4 separate regions of the Homo sapiens genome follow, and all the other regions are linked to region 1. Evidence: fine-mapped expression QTL. A gene starts in region 1. Each other region holds a variant in brackets. All regions are shown on one strand. Distances are from middle to middle. Region 1 holds the start of FAH (fumarylacetoacetate hydrolase). Region 2 overlaps FAH (fumarylacetoacetate hydrolase). Region 3 overlaps ZFAND6 (zinc finger AN1-type containing 6). Region 4 overlaps FAH (fumarylacetoacetate hydrolase).

Region 1 (5,151 bases):
GAGATAACCAAGGCTGGGCCGCAGCGGGGAGCTCATTCAGAGAGGGTGCTTAGGAGGTGACATTTAAGCTGAGTCCCAAAGAGTGAGAAGGGGCCAAGCATATAGAGAGCAGAAGGACGAGTATTCCAGGCAGAAGGAACAACATGTGCTAAGGCCTGAAGGCAGGAAGCTGCTCTTAGCACATCTCAGAGACTCAAAGGCAGCCAATGTGGCTGGAGAAAGCAGAGGCCAGGAGGCAGCAGCACAGCCAGACCACGGGGACTTTAACAAGGCACCCGGCAAAACCAGCTCCACACTACTACAACCCCGTTCTCAGAGGCCACCACCCCTACCTTCACAGAGAGCACCCCTGTACACCTTACTAGTCCATCAACCAGAAATGGAAGGAAGGCGTCTCCTGTGTCTTTGATGCCAACTCGGAGCCCAGGCAAAATCTGGACCAGAGTTGGGGTTCATAAGCATTCGCTGAATAAAAAAAAATGAATAAAGTGATGGCAGGATTCATTGTTATTCCACTCAAATTAGGAAAGGCTGACTGCTGACATGGGGGAAGGGAGGTTTTGCCTTGGCAACTAGTCTTGCCTGGCAAGGCAGCCATCACGGTTGGAATGTCCAATGCCTGCAGAGAAAGCTTCAGAAGAGGCTTGTTCAGCTGGAAGGCCAAAGGGCCAACTCTCCACCCCCAGCACTGTATCAGAGGACAGCGGAATGGGGCTCTCTCTTCCAGACATCTGTAGTGGCTGCCCTGCACATTCTGATGTTGAAACAGCGGGACATGGTGTCTGAAAACACCTAGCCACACTCTAACGGATATTAATTCGATTCCCCTGAGAAAGCAAGTCAGAGCTCCCTACTGGGGTGTGCCTGCCTCTCACAAATGTTTCTGTCTAATGGATTTGTGCTCCCAGGAAAGGTGAGGGAGGACACATCTGCCGAGGGCAAAGTGTTTGAGGAGGGCAGAGGGAGGGCTCTGTCTGCAGAAAGGTTGTTGGCCATCACAAGTTAAGATTTAATGTGCCTCAGATTGTGTCCTCCAGGGGATTGAGTGTCCACTTTCTGTATCCTTGCAACATCTGGTCAGCCCGGCCAGATGTGAAACCACAAGTTGACTCTTCTAGACCAAAGCACTTACCGCAGACAGGCCCACAAAAGGCCAGCCACTTGCATCCAATGACAAGCCATGGGGGAAGGAGGGAACCCCACTTTCCAAGAAGAAGCCAACTGCCAGGCCCCTCGTTTAGCAAACATTTCCTGATTCTGGGGTTCTATGGCTTACAGAGATGAATCAGGAGTTTACCTTTAAAGTTGGGAGCAGAAATCTAAGCCAAAAATATCATCAACAAATCCAAGGGAATCTGCTTTTCCAACCTAGGGAACCTCTTATTATCTATTTGCTGATAAACCCCCAGTTTTCAAATACTTCTTTCTACCAATCAGACTACACTGACTTAGTCAAAGTTTGTTTCCCTGCCCTCTTTCTTCTGATCAGTAGGGGAATGCCAGGGAGCCCACACCAGGAGCTGAAAGAATTTCAGCTATAGGCAGAGACACTTGCCATCTTAGATCTCACAACTCTAAGCCAAGAAACGCGCGTGCCCCTCTGACCTGCTACGCATACCGGGTTATCATTTCCCGGGTTCTAGGGTTAGGGGCTATCCAGCGAGATGAACCACCAGCCCTGACCTGGCCTCTTGGGCGAGAGAAACACACCGCAACCACCTCGGAGTAGGCAGCATGCCTGTGTGCTGCAGCTTCCGGTAACAGAATCCTGCTTGCTCTGCTTGTCTGGGAGAGTGACACGATTCATTTCATTTTGCATTTAATTCTCAGCAAACCTGCGGACAATGAGGCTGAAAAGTTAAACAACGTGCACAGCTAGAAAGTTACGAGGCGGGACTCGAGCCCATAGGCACTCTCACGGAACGAATCTTAAGAGAAAAATGGCACAAGCCTCCATCCCGCCCCTCATTCCACTCCATTCCACTCCACTCCACTCCACTCCACTCCACTCCACTCCACTCCCTCCCCGCGCCCGGACGCCAAAGCCCCACTGCTCACGTCGCCTCTGGTCGAGAAGACGCCGTAGGGCAGGTTGTGGATGGGGAAGTCGGAATCCTCGGCCACCGGGATGAAGGACATGCTGAAGAGCACCCGGCACGGCTGCGGGCCTAAGGTGGCGTGCGGAGAGCAGGACTGAACTCGGCCGCTGTGGTCAGGCCCGGCCCCGCCCCCCTGCCCGCCCCCACGGCCTGTCCGGGTGACACAGCAGGGACCCCGGAGGCTCCTACCTGACTTTTGGTCTCACCGTGAACACCCCGCCCCCGAACCCCGAGCCCTGCCCCTCCCCCCTACCCTGACCCCCGCCAGCTCCAGGTCCTCCACAGTCTCGCCCGCCCTTCCAGAGCCCCGCCCCGCCCCTGGCCCCGCCCCCGTGGGCCTCAGGTCCTCCAGTCTCTCCTCCCTCCCTGAGCCCCGCCCCTCCCCTTGCCCCGACCCCGCGAGCCCCAGGTCCTCCACAGTCTCACCCTCCCTCCCTGAGCCCCGCCCCTCCCCTCGCCCCGCCCCTCCCCTCGCCCCGCCTTGCAAGCCCCAGGTCATCCAGTCTCTCCCTCCCTCCCTGAGCCCCGCCCCTCCCCTGGCCCGGGTACCCGAGAGTCCCAGGCCCTCCAGTCTTGCCTCACTCCCCGAGCCCCGCCCCTCCCCTGGCCCCGCCCCCGTCCTGATCCCCGCCCTGTCCGCGAGTCCACGTGGGGGAGATCTGGTTCCAGCCCCCGCTCGGGGCAGCTAGCTGGTCCTACCGAGAGCAAACCCCAGCTTAGCATTTAAGGCTCTGCCCTGCATGACTCCAGCCTCGCTCGCCCCGGCTGCTGCCCTGCTCTTCAGCTCAACAGAACTCTTGTCCGCTTCCTGGAAACACTTTCTCCCCAAGAGCTGCTCCCTGAGCTTCAGAAGAACACCCAGTCGCGTCCTTTCTGCCTTCATACCATGATGCTCCGTCCAGCTATGACACTTCCACTTGTATGTCAGAGAAGGGGACAGTTAGGCCTGTTTGGAAGGCTTCAATTAATGAGAATTAATATTCTAAAAAATATAACTCACCTGTTTCACATGCCAGTAGTAAAATGACGTTGACAAGATGCTCAACCTTGGACAAGTTACTTAAACTTTCTCTACCTCAGCTTCCTTCTCTGTATAATGTTGATGATAATAGTTCCTACTTCACAAAGTTGATATAAGAATGGAATGAATTAATATTTGTGAAGCACCTAGAATAGTGCCTGGCATATACAGGTTATGTGTGTGTGGAAAGAGAGAGAAGGGAGGGAAAAAGAGGAAAGGAGGGGAGGGGGATAAAGGAAAGGAAAGATAAAAGAGAAATAGGAGAAGAGAGAGAGGGAGAAAGAAAAGAAGGAAGACAGGAAAGAAGGGAAAGGCAGACTATCTTAGGGTGGGTTCAAGGTGTTATCTAATCACTCATGTGCAGTCAGCTGCAGTTTTTTGAGACCATGCCACAGCCAGGACACTTGGAACACACCGGAGAGTGTGTCGTTGTGTTATTGTTGGTGTGAATGATTCAGGTACACTTTTAAACAGCCAGGATGCCGGCTGAAATCTAGAAAAGTAGACGATAGTCTGGGCAAGGGTTCCCTGAAGATCCTTGAGGAATGTGACACAGTGACTGCTGAGTTAGGGAGGCTGCTCCGCATTTCAGCTTAGGGAGAAGAGGCTGGAAGATGGCAGGATAATGTGAGCTAAGTGGGCTTGAAACCAGACGGCTTGAGAGGAGCGAGTACGGCAAGCAGGGCCCGCTGTTGAGCCCCCCTTCCTAGCCCCTGAGATCACTCTGGTGCCTGTCCACCAGGCGTGACCAGTGATCATCACCCAGTAAGGAGTGTAATCTGGGCACAGCCTCTTGGCTCTCATCTCCTGCCCTGAGTGGCTCTGCCAAGGACTGGCTTCAGTTCTTTTAAGTCAGCCCTGGGGAGGGAATGAAGGTGGTCTGATTTGTTCTGGTAGGTTCCTGAAAGAGGAAAAGAAGAGGAGAGTATCCCAACTTGGTGGCCTTATAAAGAGGCATTCCAGGGAGCACTTGATACCTGCCTAATTCAAGCTAGTCCTCAGCTGCAACGCAATGAATTATTTCCACGTTCTGTAGTTGCCCTGCCCCTTCCCATTAAAACCACGAGCTTTCTTATTCCATGTGCAACTCTGTCAATACCCAGCAAAACACCTGGCACAGAATAGGTTCTCCATAAATACATGTCATTAATATAAAACTGTTGACCAAAAGGAAATGAAGCAATAACTAATAAGCCCATGCCCTATGCCAGGCCATGGGGATACACCAGCAACTCACATCTTTAATTCCTGTTTTTATGGAGCATGTGTTGTGTGGGGGATGCTAGGCCAGGAGCTTCTACTGAATACATACAAGTTAACAAAAGCCTAAATGATAAAACCCTTGGAGAAAGAAAACCAAAGTATTTTAGGGAAAGGACATGGGGCAGATGTATGTGTAGGAAAGGGTGTGGGGATGAGATGGCTAAAGAGGGAGTAAGATTTCATAGTTTTAAAATAGACTTAACCAACCCACTAATTATACACAGTGTCTGAAAACGCCAAAGCTGTTCTCTATTTGGAAAACAGCATTTGAAATAACTTGCAAGTATACTATATTTTTTCTTTCTCATTTTTTGGAAGAGAATGTGTTGGCCACGTATATCACAACAATTATTTAAAAAGAATTTTAAAACAAAGAGATTGCCCATAATCCCACCAATGTAGTCTTCTCATTTTCATGTTTTTTTTTCATTCCATTTGTATGCACATGGCTTTTCCATCCTTATAAACTTTACATAGATGCAATTTTTCAGTCTTTCCCTACCTTATTCTCTTGAATATTTTTCCTTGAGGCCCAATAGGCTTTATTATGATCATTGTCATTAGCTAAGGAAGTCGCAATGTTTTAGATGGTAATAATAACGGTTCAATGAAGAGGTGCATGCACAGAATGTTTTCCTTTTCCTTGACAATTATCTAAGGAAGATTCCTGACTCAAAGAGTATGAACACTTTCAGGACTCGCAGTGAGTTTCAGCATCTCCAGCAATGAAGGCTGGTTTGGGTCTCTGTAGCACCATATTTAATGCCT
Region 2 (5,151 bases), 33 kb before region 1:
AGCCATTTTGTATCATAATGTAACCCTGAGACTAAAAACCACATACCGACGATGGCAGAGCAGAGGTATCTTTAATGACACTGTGCAGCTGCCACACTAACTCCAGCCTTCCTGACCCCAGGTTGCTTTTATGTAAGGAAGAAATACCAGCCTCCTTGATGTTCTTTAGAAATGATAAGCATATTCCATCCTCAGGGCTTTGCACGGGCTGATTCCTGTGCCTGGAGGACTCTGTCCCCAGATATCCATCTGGCCTGCTCCCCTCACTCCTTCAGCTCTCTAGCAGAAATGTACTATGGGATTAAGGCCTTCTCTAACCACATTAACAATAGCATCCACATCTCCCAATTGTCCATAAAACTTATTACCATCTGTCATACCACATGTCTTTTCCTTATCTGTTTATTGTCTATCTCTTTCCACTCGAATGTAAGCTTCAAATGGGCTATTCTGTTTACTGCTGTGCCTCTCATCCTTAGAACAGTGCTTAACACACAGAAGGTGCTCAATAAAGATTTGTTGAGTGAATGAATGAATGGTGCGATCTGACGGATGGGCTCTGCATCCTCAACTATCCCCCTAGGCCCCGGTATAAGGCTCATCAGGCCCAGGAAAGGTCGCAGGGCATACTCCCCTGCTGTCATCACCAAGGAACTAGGGTAGAACCAGGGCTGCCTGTGTGCAATGGGTTGGGACAGAAGAGATGGGGCAGAGCTCACTCTCCTGACTCTGGTGGGCTTGCAAGAGGTGAAAAGCTAGGTCCTTTTCTGCCATCATCACAGTTCAGGTGCTCACCCATGACTCGGAGGCTCTTCCCAAGGCTTACAGTGTGGAGACGCAGCCACGGGGCCCATGAACCAAGCCTACAACCCATATGTGCTCATCCGTTAGCCCCAAGAAACACTGGACATGCAGGGTGCTGTGATGGGCAGTTTTCTGTATTAATTTGGCTAGACTAAGGTACCCAAATATTTGCTCAAATGCTATTCTACATGTTTCTAAGAAAGTACTTTTTAGGTGAAATAAAACTTAAATCAGTGGAGTAAAGCAGAAGACCCCCACAGTGTGGCTGGGCCTCATCTAATCAGTTGATGGCCTTCACCAAACAATGACTCACTTCCCAGAGGAAGAGGAAATTTTGACAGCAGACTGCTTCAGACTCAAACTGCAGCTCTTCCTTGGGTCTCCAGCCAGCAACCCACCCAGCAGGTTTTGGGCTTGCCACCCTCCAGAATCCCAGAAGCCAATTTGCTTAAAATCAATCAATCAATCAATAAATCGATCTCTTTCTCCTTGGTTCTATTTCTCTGGAGAGCCCTGACTACTACAGGTGCCAGTCTCTTTTCAAATTCCATGGAATACCAGGAGGCCTGGGATGTCTAATAAGAAAATCCCACAAAGACCCCTGACCTCACTAATAAGAGTGAGAAAACATATTAATGAATATCTGGCAGGGAGGCTTTACACACCTTGACCCACTGGATCAAATCACGATCATAAGTGGACACAGCTGCATCTGCGGCAGTGCAGGCCTCAGAGCACAATGGCTTTATTTGTCACTGAATGGCGGACCAGGCCTACAGCCCGAGGGAGGACCCCAGTCACAGGGTTGAAAGGGGTGCTTGAGCCCTTTGTTTCCAGAAGAGCAGAGAAAATCTCATGATGGCAGGAGAGCAGGCAGCACTTTTCCAGCACACTGGCCAAAGCCGATGCGGTAACCATCCCCCTGGCAGTACCCTGGAACAGAGGAGGACAAGGATCAGTCACAAAGTTGCTGGGCTCACCGGAACCAACACCTAGGCAGCGGCAGTGCCCGTCAGCACACAGCTGGCCCGAGGCAGGAAGGTGCCATCAGAATCACACACACATATCTTAAACACAAGAATAACCCTCCACGGAAGCTGGGCAGAGTTGCACGCAGGAGCCCTTGGACTAGAACCCGGGCCCACCCCACAGCCAGGGATCCTCAGA[G/A]GCACTGCAAGGCTCAACAGCTTTCCTGTGGCTAATATGGTTTGGCTCTGTCCCCCGCCAAACCTCATTTTGAATTATAGCTCCCATAATTCCCATGTGTTGTGGGAGGTACACAGTGGGAGATAATTGAATCATGGAGCGGTTTCCTCCATACTGTTCTCATGGTAGTGAAGAAGTCTCATGAGATCTGATGTTTTTATAAGCGGTTTCTCCTTTCACTTGGCTCTCATTCTCTCTTGCCTGCCACCATGTAAGACATGCCTTTTGCCTTCCACTATGATTGTGAGGCCTCCCCAGCCATGTGGAACTGTGAGTCCATTAAACCTCTCTTTCTTTATGAATTACCCAGTCTCAGGAATGTCTTTATCAGCAGTGTGAAAACAGACTAATACAGTGGTCAACTCTCCCCACATGGGTTTGGGTTCAAATCCTCGCTCTGCCAATTAGCCTGAAGCCAGAATGCCTGAGGTCAAAGCCTGGCTCCTCTACTTATTGGCTCTGTAACCTTGGGTCCCTCTAGACCTCAGTTTCTTCATCTGTGCAATGGATCTTATGATAGTGCCCACCGCACAGGACTGCTGCAAGGATGATGGGAGCAAATGCATAGAAAACTCTGAGAACAGCCTCCAGTCCCTATTTGAAATTCCCTGTAAGTGTCAGTCATTACAACCATTATGAGCTGGGTGGCTGGGAACAAGCTGTTTGACTTCAGAACTCACCTCCCTCATCTGCAAACAAGAAAAACAACGCTTATCTCTCAAGGTTGTAAGGATTAGACTAAATATTTCAGTGAAATTCCCAGCACATCTCAGAAACTAATAAATATTAGTTTCCTTCATTTAATTCCATTTCAACAAGGATGATGGAAAAGCAGAGAGAAGCCCATCTCTGCCCTTGAGAGGGGTCCACTTAGAGGGAGTGGGAGGTCCAGACGAGAGATACAGAGAAATGCTTACAAGGTGCTGAGCGAGCAGCATGGAGGGAAAGGGAGCAGGAAGGGGGGATATCTTAGCTGGGCCTTGACGGGTAGCTAGGAGTTCATTAGGGAAGACACATGAAAATGCCATTCCAGACAGAGGGAAGAACACGTGCAAAGGCTCAGACACTCAGGCACGAGATGCATTTGTCACATCTGTTCAGTGAGGCTGTCCTTTGGGGGGCCCTAAGAAGCCCCGTGACCCACATGCTGACAACATGCAGGGATGCCCTTTGTCGAGAGCAACGACCTCACCTATTCTGTTGCTCATTTTCATTATTTTCTGTCAGTCTCTTTTCCACCTCAATGCTCAGAAATATCCACACCACTGGGGTGAAAAAAAAAGCCTATTAAAGTAAAACTGGCTCCCAGCAGAAATTTATTAAACATCTATCAAAACAACTAACTCGGAACTGCAGCATTTTTAAAGAGTCTCTCCCAACCATGGTCCTGAAGGAGAAGGGTCACTGCTTCTACACCCTGGGACCCCTGGTCAGCCTTGCGCAGGAATTCTGTGCCAGGCAAGGCAAGCAATAATGCTGGGGAGAGAAACTGGAATAAACAGAGACACAGGAACACCAGGTGAAAGACGCCACCACTGAGAGACGCAGGGCAAGAAACGAAAGACTTTTGCTCAGATATTGTTTCCAAATAATGTCAGATACCAAGAAAGAATCCACAACAAATCATAACTATCAACAAATCAAAGATCTGAAGGAGAGTGAGAAATGCATGTGTCCAGCAGTGCAGAGCCATCCGTGCAAATGCCTGCGAGAACACATCCTTGCAAGTTGCAAGCTCAACACCAGATGGGGTTTGTGAGCGAGACTAGGGGATGGATGAGTTAAACCAAGACGATCAGAGATTTTTGTTGATATTTTTGGTTTGTTTACTTCACCTGTTCTCTTGCTGAACATTTTGTGGTTTTTGGACTCTCTCAGAAATGAGAATTTCATCGCGCCATTTAAAGAGGCAACAGGACACAAGGGTTCAGAGCACAGCTCCTGGAGCCCAACTGCCTGTGTTCAAACCCTGGCTCTACCCTTTATCGCCTGTGTGATCCTGGGTAAGTATGCATCTTTCTGGGCCTCAGTTTCCACATCTGAAAAATAGAGACAGTAAGAGTAGCTGCCTTGTTTGGAATAGAAAATGTATTGCAGGTAAAGCACTTGGCACAGTGTCTGGCCTGCAGTAAGTGCTGCGGCGTTGGCTGATGCCAGCACTTCTGAATGTTCTATCGCGTTTCCAATGGTTAGAAATTGATTTGGGGAAGGAGCATCCGTGAAGAGCAAGCAGGGAAATGAGAGGCAGCCATAAAGGCATCTGAGCAGGTGCAGAGAAGGAGGAGGAAAGCCGGGAAGAGCTGAAGAAACCATGTGTGGCTTTCAAGCAAGAAAGCAGCTCAGCAGGGCCACGTGACCAGTGAAGTCGTAGAAGGTGAGGGCAGAGCCGTCCGCCAATGCGGGGAACCTTTGCACAAGGTAACACAGCTGACACACCACCTCCACCTGCCCGCTCCTCTGCTTACCCCCTGCTTAGCCCAAATTCTAGCAATATGCATTCTTTTGAGTTTTTCAGTGGTCCCCTTCTGTATGAAATTCTCTTTTTTCTTTTTATGAACACATAATGTATGCCTCTCCTCTTAGCAAATTATAATTCTTCTTTCTTGGTTCCAGGGGATTTTGCCCATCTGTTCCCATTTCCCTCTTCACTTGCCAACATGTGCTTCTTCAGATCCAAGGAACTGCCTTTCCCTGAATTCCTCTGCTGGCCTCCAAAAATCCTTCCGGAGTAAGGCGTTGTATACACAAACAAACATGGAAATGACTCTCATGGCATCTTGGCTCCTTTCTCCTTCCTTCTCTGGCTCAAATGTCAAGAACACATGTGCATTCCAACTGCTAGATACCAGCCTCCTTTCTCCCAGGCCCTGGACAGCTGCCTGGTCTAGCATGGCTTAGTCAGGGGCCCTTATCACACTGACAACAGAGAGTTAAAGCCATCATTTTCTCTTCTGCCACCATCTCTTTCCTTCCTTTCCCCAAATCAAAACTTCAGAAAATGCTTTCACTCAATCCACAGAACCGTGACCAAAGGCCTGCGGTAGGTCTGGCAAGCATTGCAGAAAGACTAGAAACAAACTTGGCAGGGGAATCAGAAGACCTCAGTTGCAGACTGGCTTCCCCAGTTGTGGGACTTTTGTC
Region 3 (5,151 bases), 28 kb after region 1:
AAGTTGAGCATGGTTTTTTTTTTTTTTTTTTTTTTTTTTGAGATGGAGTTTTGCCCTTTTGCCCAGGCTGGAGTGCAGTGGCACAATCTCAGCTCACTGCAACCTCCACCTCCCAAGTTCAAGCAATTCTCCTCTGCCTCAGCCTCACGAGTATCTGAGACTACAGGCGCATGACATCACAGCCAGCTAAGTTTCATATTTTTAGTAGAGATGGGGTTTCACCATGTTGGCCAAGCTGGTCTCCAACTCCTGACTTAAGGTGATCCGCCCGCCTCAGCCTCCCAAAGTGCTGGGATTACAGATGTGAACCACCGCACCCGGCCCTGTTGAGCATCTTTTCATGTGTTTATTGGAAACTTGTATATCTTTTCTGGAGAAATGTCCACTCAAATCCTTTGCTTATTTTTAAAATGGGTTTTCTATTGTTGAATTGTAATTATTTATATATCCTTATCACATATATGATTTCAAAGTATTTTTTCTCTCATTCTGTAGGCTGGTTTTCCACTCTTTTATTTTTTGAGAGAGGGTCTCATTCTGTGACCCAGGCTGAAGTGCAGTGGTGCGTTAATGGCTCACTGCAGCCTCAACATCCCAAGTTCAAGTGATCCTCCCACCTCAGCCTCCCTACCCAGTAGCTGGGACTACAAGCGTGCGCCACCACACTCGGCTATTTTTTGTACAGATGGGGTTTTGCCATGTTGCCCAGGCTGGTTTCAAACTCTTGAGCTCAAGTGATCTGCCCACCTTGGCCTCCCAAAGTGCTGGGATTACAGGCATAAGTCACTGCACCTGGCTGTTTTTCCACTCTTTTAAGCAAAAATCTTTATTTTGATGTAGCTCAATTTATCTATAATTTCTTTGGCTGCTTGTGGTTAAGGTGTCATATCTAAGAAACCACTGCCTAAACCAAGATCACAAAAATGTATACCTGCTTTAAGAGTTTTATAGTTCTCTTATATTCGTTTTAGGTCTTTGATGTATTTCGGGTGAATTTTTGCATATGGTATGACATAGGAGTCCAATTCATTCTTTCGAATGTGGATATGAAGTTGTTCCTGCATCATTTGTTTAAAAGATTACTCTTTTCCCATCAAATGATTTTGGCACCATTGTTGAAAGTCAATGGCCCATAAATATAATAAGAGTTTATTTCTGGACTCTCAATTTTTTATTCCACTTACCTTCATGACTATCCTCATGCCGGTACAACACAGTCTTGATTACTGTAGCTTGTACTCAATTTTGAAGCCAGGAATTGTTAGTCCTCCAACTTTGTTATTTTTCAAGATACCTTTGGCTATTCTCACTCATTCTTTAGAATCAGAAGAAATGCCTGATTTTTAAAACCCATACAGCTTTCCTAAATCAGTCCAAAGAGACTGTCCCCCTCTGATTTTTCTGAACCAATGATTTGACAATTCAACTTTGTATAAAGTCAGAAACCCTCAGAGTAGGAAAGAGCCTGAGAATTCTAGTTCATCCTGTCACTAAGCACAGCATTCCTCTCTCTATATGGTCTCTAACATCAACTCATCTTTCCTAGAATGCTTCAGTGATGTAGACCTTACCATCTTAACATATGACATCATTCGAGTGTTGGAAAGCTTCAAAATTCTCTCTTACTCTAGGCCTCCTACAACTCCCAAATCACTTGGGCAATATAAAGAATATCTTCTGCAGCTTACAAAGCTCATCCAACCTCCATTATCTCAGTATCTTTTAATACCCTGTAAGAGGGACATTCTTATTCTCTTTTAAGAGTAATGAAAGTAAGGCTCAGTGAAGTTAAGCAGGCATACCAAGATAGGAAAATAGAACTTATGAATCCAAATTCAGTATTTTTCTACTATGACCCAAGATCTGAGGGACTAAGAGGTTGACCAAATTTAAGCATATTCTTCAACAGTTTTAGAGTGTACCAAAATGCTTAAAGTAGTTCTTTTAAAAGCTAGCATTTGTGAACTGGAAATTTGACTTATACTCCTGAGTGACACTATGTAAGTAAGGTACTGCTATATTTTTAAATCAAAAAGAACAACTAAGAAACATGCTTCAATATGCTAAATTCTCAATGAAACATAAAAATTCTTCAGAGCCATGTGGCCAATATGAAAGCAGTACCACCAACCTGGTGGCAGCATATCCTAATTATAAGCAGAATACATGTAGAGAAAAAGTTGTTCTGAATGTTCCAATTACAAAATGTTACAAACTTCTGGCTTAGACATATAGCTGCTACTCATATACCTTCTTCCATTTGGGATGGTTTTCCTATCTATATAAATTTCCCTTGAGGGAAGCATATGGAGTGAGGAAGAAGAAAACTGATACCTGGGTAGTTTGCTAAACGAGTTGATCCTACCCTGAGAACTGAGGGAGATGTATGTGTTAACAGGAATACACATATCCACATCCTAGTCCAACAAGCTCCACAACTGTCTAATCATAAGAATACTGGCCTCTATGAGTTAGGTCCCTGGATTCCAGTTCCAGCTTTTATGACCATATGACTGACTCAAAGAGACTTTTTCTGTCTCTTTTCATCCATCTATTAAATAAATGGAAAAAAAGTTATTTGAATTTGATCAATAGGGAAATCGTAATTGCATGTAAGTGTATGAGTGTGTGCACATACAGAATATACACGTACATATATACAAACATACATGTTTATATTTGTGTATGTTTATAATAAAAAGGGTATTCTTAATTCAATAATATGTTAAATTTTTTTTAAAAACTAGGTTGTTAAGAGATTTTACATACTGGAACCTAACCCTCCTCTCTTAAAACTGAGATGAAACTTATACCTAATTTATCAAAGATTTGCTGCTGATATTACGAATGCTAAGTTTTTTAAAGGTACTTACAAGTTAATACTGGTTTAACCTAAAAGTCATTCAAATCATGTATGAAAAATGGGGCCTATACAATTTCTCCTAATATGGCATCAGGACCACCTTTTGAAGTGATATACTCAGGGCTAAGTGGAGAAAACGGTATTGTTTTCCATACACCACAAATGGAAATAAAAACACTTTTATAAATAAATGGTATAAAAACACTTCCTATGTGTTATGATAGTTCACCAATCTATGACCTTTATTCTTTGTCAAACTTC[T/C]GTAAATACTATTGTATTCTTAAGCTTTATACATTTTTTTCACTGCCAACATTCTAAATTTTTTTTTTTTTTGAGACGGAGTCTCGCTCTGTTGCCCAGGCTGGAGTGCAGTGGCGCCATCTCGGCTCACCGCAAGCTCCGCCTCCCAGGTTCATGCCATTCTCCTGCCTCAGCCTCCCCAGTAGCTAGGACTACAGATGCCCGCCACCACGCCCAGCTAATTTTTTGTATTTTTAGTAGAGACAGGGTTTCACCGTGTTAGCCAGGATGGTCTCGATCTCCTGACCTCGTGATCCACCCGCTTCAGCCTCCCAAAGTGCTGGGATTACAGGCGTGAGCCACCGCGCCCAGTCTTTTCCTTATTTCTTTAAAGATTCCTCATTTCTGCCCTTCCTTAAATTTTTTGATGTAACTAAGAAATAAGAATTATTCACTTAAAACATTTAAGAATTTATCACAATATGCTAGATGGGACTAGAATATTTACGTTGACCACACAGAATATTCTTTTGTTACGGCAAAATCTACACAAACAAGCAAACTGGTTCAAGTATTTGCTGGGTATGAAAAAAAAGCAAGAGGAACTACCTAGCTTATTTAAATTTGTTTATTTAATTCTTGAGACCGGGTGTGGGGGAATTGCTCTGGTGCCCACCCAGGCTGGAGTGCAGTGGCACGATCATAGCTCACCGCAGCCTGAATTCCTGGGCTCAAGCAATCCTCCCACGTCAGCTTCCTGAGTAGTTGTGACTACAGGTATGTGCCGCCTCACCTGGCTAATTTTTTGTTGTCCAGGCTAGTCTCAAACTCCCAGACTCAAGCGATCCTCCTGCCTTAGCCTCTCAAGTAGGTAGGGATTATAGGCACAAGCCACAGTGCCTGGCCTAAATTAAAAATTTAGCCATCTTAAACTAGGATTGGCAGATGTATCTGTTACCATCATGTGAACACCATGTGCAATGAAGTTTCACTGGTAAATCATCTCACAGGCAGAATGACACACTGCTCTTCATTAGGCTTATCTTTCCAGAGATCCTTCCTTGTTACCATGTTATTTCCACACACTGCTAGAATACAACTAATTAAGCAGAGATTATTTAATAGCCTCCAAAATGGCCTACTCCGCATTCTCTCTCCCTACTACGAAAGCCTTCATACAAATTTTCAAGTCTTCCTAGATCACTTTGAGCTTCATAATGGGGATATGAAGAGCATGGGCAAGACACGATAGATACCATGCTGTGAATACGAGCAACTGAATGTGACTATTGCACACATGGGGAAGAAAAAAGGAGAACTGCCAGGCACGATGGACACAGTCTCTCAGATAATGAGTCAAAACACAAAAGAAAGAGATGCCCCTCAAACCAGCAGCCCCAGTTTTCTTACAGAGTAGTATATAGACTGAAACGGCCAAAATAGTAAAAGAGAACAGTGTAACACTGCCACACATTCATTTAATTATATTTTCCAAACTAAACAAATTTTGAATTTGCAACATTTATGCTGATGATAAAATTACATGTAAGTGTGAAATGGCTCCCCAACATGTTAATTAAATACTTAAAGATATAAAGTATTGTGTTCATAGGGAAAACAGAAAAACATGTATTTTAAGCTGGCAATTTTTTTATACATGCACCTAGGATAGTGTCTGGCCTATAATACTCAAATAACAAAATACATGCTAGTTCATATACAAACCCTGCACATCTTCTGTTTCAGGTACTGCTTTGTCCACAGATGTACTGTCCAATTGAGAAGATGCTACAGATTCTGATAAAAGTGACTGATTTGATACAGGGCTAGAAAAGCAAAATATTTCATTTTAAAAGGTGATCTCTACACATGAATATTAACTAATGTGACACAGTAAGAGTTCAACATATCTAAGTAGATAATTAAGATGAGAACACAGACATACTTTTTTTTAATAACTTAAACATAATCATAGAGCTTTAAAACTAGAGACTAATTTGGACCAGAATTTTACTGCCTTGGAAACAAAGCAACAGTGTATATGTCCT
Region 4 (5,151 bases), 24 kb before region 1:
GGCAGGAGAATGGCATGAACCCAGGAGGCGGAGTTTGCAGTGAGCCGAGATCGCGCCACTGCACTCCAGCCTGGGCAACGAGCGAGACTCCATCTCAAAAAAAAAAAAAAATTAAGTCAGTTGTGGAATATTTATACAGTGCAACACTATAAGGCAATGAGAAAAATGAGCTGTCACTGCAAAGAGCAACAGGGTTGAATCTCACAGATCTAACACTAAAACAAAGATGCCAGCTACAAAAGAATACATGCTACTTTATGATGCCATTTCTATAAAACTGAAAAACAGAAAAAAAATAATACATGGTAGCAGAGGTCAGGAGAGGAGTGACCTTTGCTGGAGGGAGTGATGAAGTGACCTGGAGGGCCCCACGGGGCTGCTGAGGTGCTGGAAATTTTCCATTTCTGATCTGGGTGCTGGTTGCACAGGGATGTTCATTTTAGGAAAATTCTTCAAGCTGTACATGTATAATATGCACTTTTTTTAATTTTTATTTTTTGAAATAGGGTCTTGCTCTGTCACGCATGCTGGAATGCAGTGGTGTGATCATGGCTCACTGCAGCCTCGACCTCCTGGGCTCAAGCGATCCTCCTGCCTTAGCCTCCCAAGTAGCCGGGACCACAGGTGCATGCTACCACGCCCGGCTAATTTTTTTACTTTTTGCAGAGACAAGGTCTCATTATGTTGCCCAGGCTGGTCTCAAACTCCTAGGCTTAAGCGATCCTCCCACTTTGGCCTCCCAAAGTGCTGGGATTACAGTAATGTGTGCATTTTTATCTATGTATATTATGCTTCAATTAAAAGTTCACTTAAAAAATAAGTCACTCTCATCAATACAGCCCCTGGCAGGACAGGATAAACCAGGAACTAGACCTTTACAGGAACACCTATTTTCCCCCAAGAAAATCACTGGCCACATTTATGCAGCCTCTATCTCGAGAGAACTCTGTGACCCCATGGCCACTCCTAAAAGAGACAGGCCATGGAAGCTCCAGGCCCACAGGCTGACCCATCATCATATCCCAAAAGGAATGCTCTCCTCCTGTTCCTGCCAGGAAGAAAAGTCTCTCTTTCCCTCAATTCTAAAAAGCAGTCTGATCAGCGTCAAAGCTTACCTTAAAATTGGACTTGCATATGGTAGCCGCCTGGCTCATTCCTTCTCCTGTTGGAAAGAAAAGCAATATTGATGAAAACTTAATTCCATGCATCAGGGAGGAAAATAAAAAAAGAATTGTTCTGTGGCTGAAGCTTCCCATTGTCCAACATGATTTCACTTAGAGTCTGTGAAACAATTAGCTCCTAGGACATCAGAGCTGGGAGGTCCAGGGTTGGCCAATACATGCACACAAGTCATCACTTCCTCCTCCCACGCCTACAGCAGGCAGCATTAATTGATCACAGCACATGTTTGCTCTGAGTCCATATGTAGCCTCAGAATCCTTCTTAACACAGTGATCCTGGCACCCGCAAATCCACTAAAGATAGTGTGCCATTTGAAAGCTACTTGTGACCTTTGATCAAGGATAACCTGCTGTCCCCTCAGGAGTCCTCTGGATAGCTGGGTCATCTGTCCCCTGCCGAGCTCCTCCAGTGATGGGCAGTGTGCTACTTCACAACGTACTAAACAATATTTACTAAACATCTACTACATGCAAGGTACCGGGCTGTTGCCGTTCCACTTCTGAACAGCACTAATAAGTAGAAAGCTCCTCTGCTCCCTCAAAACCTGGCTTCCTCCCTTGGTCCTAACTTCCCCTCTGAGGTGGCACAGAACAGGTGTGCTCTTCAGCCATGCGAGGTCTGGGTCTGCCAAGGCTGCTCCTCCCCAGACCCTTTCGCCCAGATCCCAACTCAGAACATCAGAACTGCAAATGCAGGACTACATCTCTGGACACTGTGCTTTCTGGATAATCTTGTCCCTTTTCTACCAGTGGCCTCCCCCGGGCGGGCAGGTTCACCTCTAGGCAGCCAGGAATACTGAGGACAAAACCAGATAGAAAGTATACTCCAAGCACGCATTGTGGGTGGCAGGAGGCCAACCTAGAACTTGTGACACACTTGGATTGAGTCCCAGCCCTGCCATTAGCCAGGTAGGTGGCTCGGGGTGAATCCTTTTCCTCTCTGAGCCTCAGCTTCCTGACCTGGAACCTGAAAGAGCGGGCCCAGCACAGCTTCCCAGAGGGCCCTGGGCAGCCAGGAGGCTCTCTGTGACAGCTCTTTCTCCATGGAGCATCCTGCTCCCATGGCGACAGCTCCTGCAGTGTACTGCGCCTCCTGACAGGAACCACCTCATGAAGGGCCGAGACCCTGGAACTGACAGTGAGACAGACATGGCAAAGCCTGGAGTGTACAGACAGAGCAGACAGAAGAAAGAAATGGAGCTGGCCGGGCATGGTGGCTCAC[G/A]CCTGTAATCCCAGCACTTTGGAAGGCCTAGGTGGGTAGACCACCTAAGGTTAGGAGTTCAAGACCATCCTGACCAACATGAAGAAACCCCATCTCTACTAAAAATACAAAATTAGCCAGGCATGGTGGCGCATGCCTGTAATCCCAGCTACACAGGAGGCTGAGGCAGAAGACTCGCTTGAACCCAGGGGCAGAGGTTGTGGTGAGCCAAGATCGCACCATTGCACTCCAGCCTGGGCAAGAAGAGTGAAACTCCATCTCGGGGGAAAAAAAAAGAAGAAAAGAAAAGAAAAAGGAATGGAATGGAGCTAAAAAGGAGATTTGGCCAGAGTGTGGCTAGGAGGTCTGTGTGTGGCCACCAGGCAAACCCTCCCCATCCGAGGGCCCCCGTTGGGATTGGAAAATGACACCTGACTCTTTCTAGGTACAGACCCTGTCCCAGACCTTTGCATGAATTGACATGTTTGGTCCTCACAACACACCATGAGGTCAACGCCGCTATTATCCCATTTCATAGATGACAAATGAGGACATGGCCAGGTTTGGCAACTTGCCCAAAGTCCCACAGCTGAGCAGCAGAGTCATGGCCTGCAGAGCCAGTCTCTTTATTACCAACGCCCCATTGGGCCTGTTCGCGGAGGCGGGCTGAGCAGCCACAGGGAGATGTGGGCCCTGTCTATGTCAGGGCTGGCCCAGGGTGGGGATCTCGGGTCTGTCTGCAAGACACTCAGGGCTGGCCCATGGTGGGAATCTGGGGTCTTGATGCGCTGGCTCTGTGTGGCCCCAGGGGCTCAGCCAAGCGAACAGACCCACAAGGACATGCTTTCAAACAGGCACTCAATGAAATGTGCCACCCACCACGGAAGTGAGGGTCAGTGGCGATATGTGAGCAGGAGCCAGGCAGCCCCTGGAGAGGCTGGGGAGGGGATTCAAGCAGAAGATGGAAGTCCCGGACTCCATCCTTTCAGCCCTACCACTGAGAGCTCAGTGACAGGGTTAATGCCCTATGGGCCCAGTTAGGTTCCCAGTGAGCACCAGGGTGTCCCCTCCCCTCCCCTCCTCTTTCCTTTAGACGAGCCACACACATCTCCAGGGCTGTAGCACGTGCCCTCACCCTTGCCAAAGCTCAGGAGCCTTCAGGACAAGGCACACAGGCACACATTGCCTCAGAGCTCCTGGCCATGTCAGTCCCCCTACAACATACCTTTCAGGTTAACAGAGAGGTTGATGTCAAATGTGTAGGGCTCGTCATGGCACAGATACGGCAGGGGCCTGGGGTCCTGAGAGGGCAAAGCACAGCACAGAGGTCACTGGCAGGTGGGCTGAGCTCACCCGGCTGGGCCCCCATACCAGCCAGGCCCCCAGCAGCACCTGCTCCCCTAGGCAGAGGGTCTGAGACAGCAGGAGCATTCCCTCTCCAGGGACCCAGCACTGTGTCCCTGGATAGCAGTAGGGGGGATCATACTGTGGGTCTCTAGGAAATGCAGCCAAGGAAGGGGCATCAGCAGGTCAAAGGTCACAGGAGCCAAACCAGAGATGTTCCTGAAAGCCACAGGAGGGGAGAGAAAGGGAAGGTGGGCAGCAGACAGGCCGAGATGGAGAACAAAGCCTGGCCTGTGAGGAAAGGCTGGGCCTGAAAGCGCATTGCAGGGCCCCTGGAAGGCAGAGGGGTCACAACAGAAGTAGACAGCCCTGGCTGGTGCTGGAGCCAGCTAGGGAGGCAGCTTGGATGGCTGGGCCAGAACGCCTGCACTCCGGCCAAAAGCAGTGTTTTCCAAAGCATGGTACATGAGTCACCCACGGGACATGAGATCGTTTTTGGTGATACTAATGGTTATGAAACAGTGTAGCTAGTGATGCCAGTAGGAATATAAAGTTCCCTTCTTAATATATTAAGTTTAAACTGGGAGCCACTCTGAAGGAAAACATTAAGTAAATAATAGTTCAGAGGGGGAATAGTAGTGTTGTACCTAAATGGTGTTGGGGAAGGGCTGGCACAGAGGAAGGCAGGCAAAACCCTGTGATGACCGACCCGGAAGAAGGCAGATGACTGGAGGACAAGCAAAGAGAGGCTGTGGCCTTGCAGCCCTAGGGAGACTAGACAAGGCCGCTGCCAGCTAGAGAGAAAGTCAAGTCCTGGCGACTGAAAATGACCAGGGTGGGCAGGGGGTGCTGTGGTAGGGAGCAGCGAGGAGAGAGCAAGGGATGAGGGTGAAAGCCCCACAGGACTTCACTAGAACTGGCTTGCAAGGAAAGACCTCAGGGTTGTTTGTAGCACAGCAAACATGAGATGACCCCAGAGGCAGAGGAGCATGGGAGAGCAGTGTGGGTGCAGGACCAGCACCGGGTGTTGGTAGAGGCCCCCAGCAAATGCGTGGTGAGATGCTCAAGCGAGGATGTGCAAATGGCTGGGAGCTCAGCCTGGATCCCCACAGGGAGGTCAGAATTGGAGAGGGGCATCGTGAGGACTCAGAGACACTGGAGAACGAGGACAGGTCACATGCCAGAAACCAAGGGGTGAGGGAATGCCAACAAGAGTGAGGGGCCACAGGAAGTCCATGCTGAAGGGGACACAAGGTCATGACACTGACTATCGGGTCACAGGTGACTCTGGCCAGGTGTTGCCAGTGATGGAGTGGGGCAGATTGCAACAGGCTGAGAAGGGAGGACTGGAACCAGGGGTCAAGGCCTAGACCCAGTGGTAGACCAAGCGGTGCCGGGAACCAGAGGCTGCAGGGACTCCCTGTT

The links. PIP is the estimated chance that this variant, and not a neighbour inherited with it, causes the effect.
Region 2: its variant is fine-mapped to the expression of FAH in whole blood (INTERVAL, PIP above 0.99).
Region 3: its variant is fine-mapped to the expression of FAH in whole blood (TOPMed, PIP 0.93).
Region 4: its variant is fine-mapped to the expression of FAH in whole blood (TOPMed, PIP above 0.99).

The regions. Positions count from the first base shown.
Region 1 is chr15:80,150,043-80,155,193 of GRCh38, reverse strand. It overlaps FAH (fumarylacetoacetate hydrolase), which reads right to left and starts at 2,195. Exons shown (of 14, transcript NM_000137.4): 1 at 2,059-2,195. The coding sequence starts at 2,139. RefSeq lists a silencer at 2,207-2,766.
Region 2 is chr15:80,182,716-80,187,866 of GRCh38, reverse strand. FAH (fumarylacetoacetate hydrolase) reads right to left here. Exons shown (of 14, transcript NM_000137.4): 14 at 1,518-1,737. The coding sequence ends at 1,658. Among named protein-coding and RNA genes, the nearest start is that of FAH, 32 kb to the right of the region's middle. RefSeq lists an enhancer at 1,200-1,700. The variant G/A (reference allele first, on the strand shown) is at 1,972.
Region 3 is chr15:80,122,478-80,127,628 of GRCh38, reverse strand. ZFAND6 (zinc finger AN1-type containing 6) reads right to left here. Exons shown (of 7, transcript NM_019006.4): 5 at 4,829-4,929. Among named protein-coding and RNA genes, the nearest start is that of FAH, 28 kb to the left of the region's middle. The variant T/C (reference allele first, on the strand shown) is at 3,125.
Region 4 is chr15:80,173,548-80,178,698 of GRCh38, reverse strand. FAH (fumarylacetoacetate hydrolase) reads right to left here. Exons shown (of 14, transcript NM_000137.4): 10 at 3,608-3,683; 11 at 1,116-1,162. Among named protein-coding and RNA genes, the nearest start is that of FAH, 23 kb to the right of the region's middle. The variant G/A (reference allele first, on the strand shown) is at 2,404.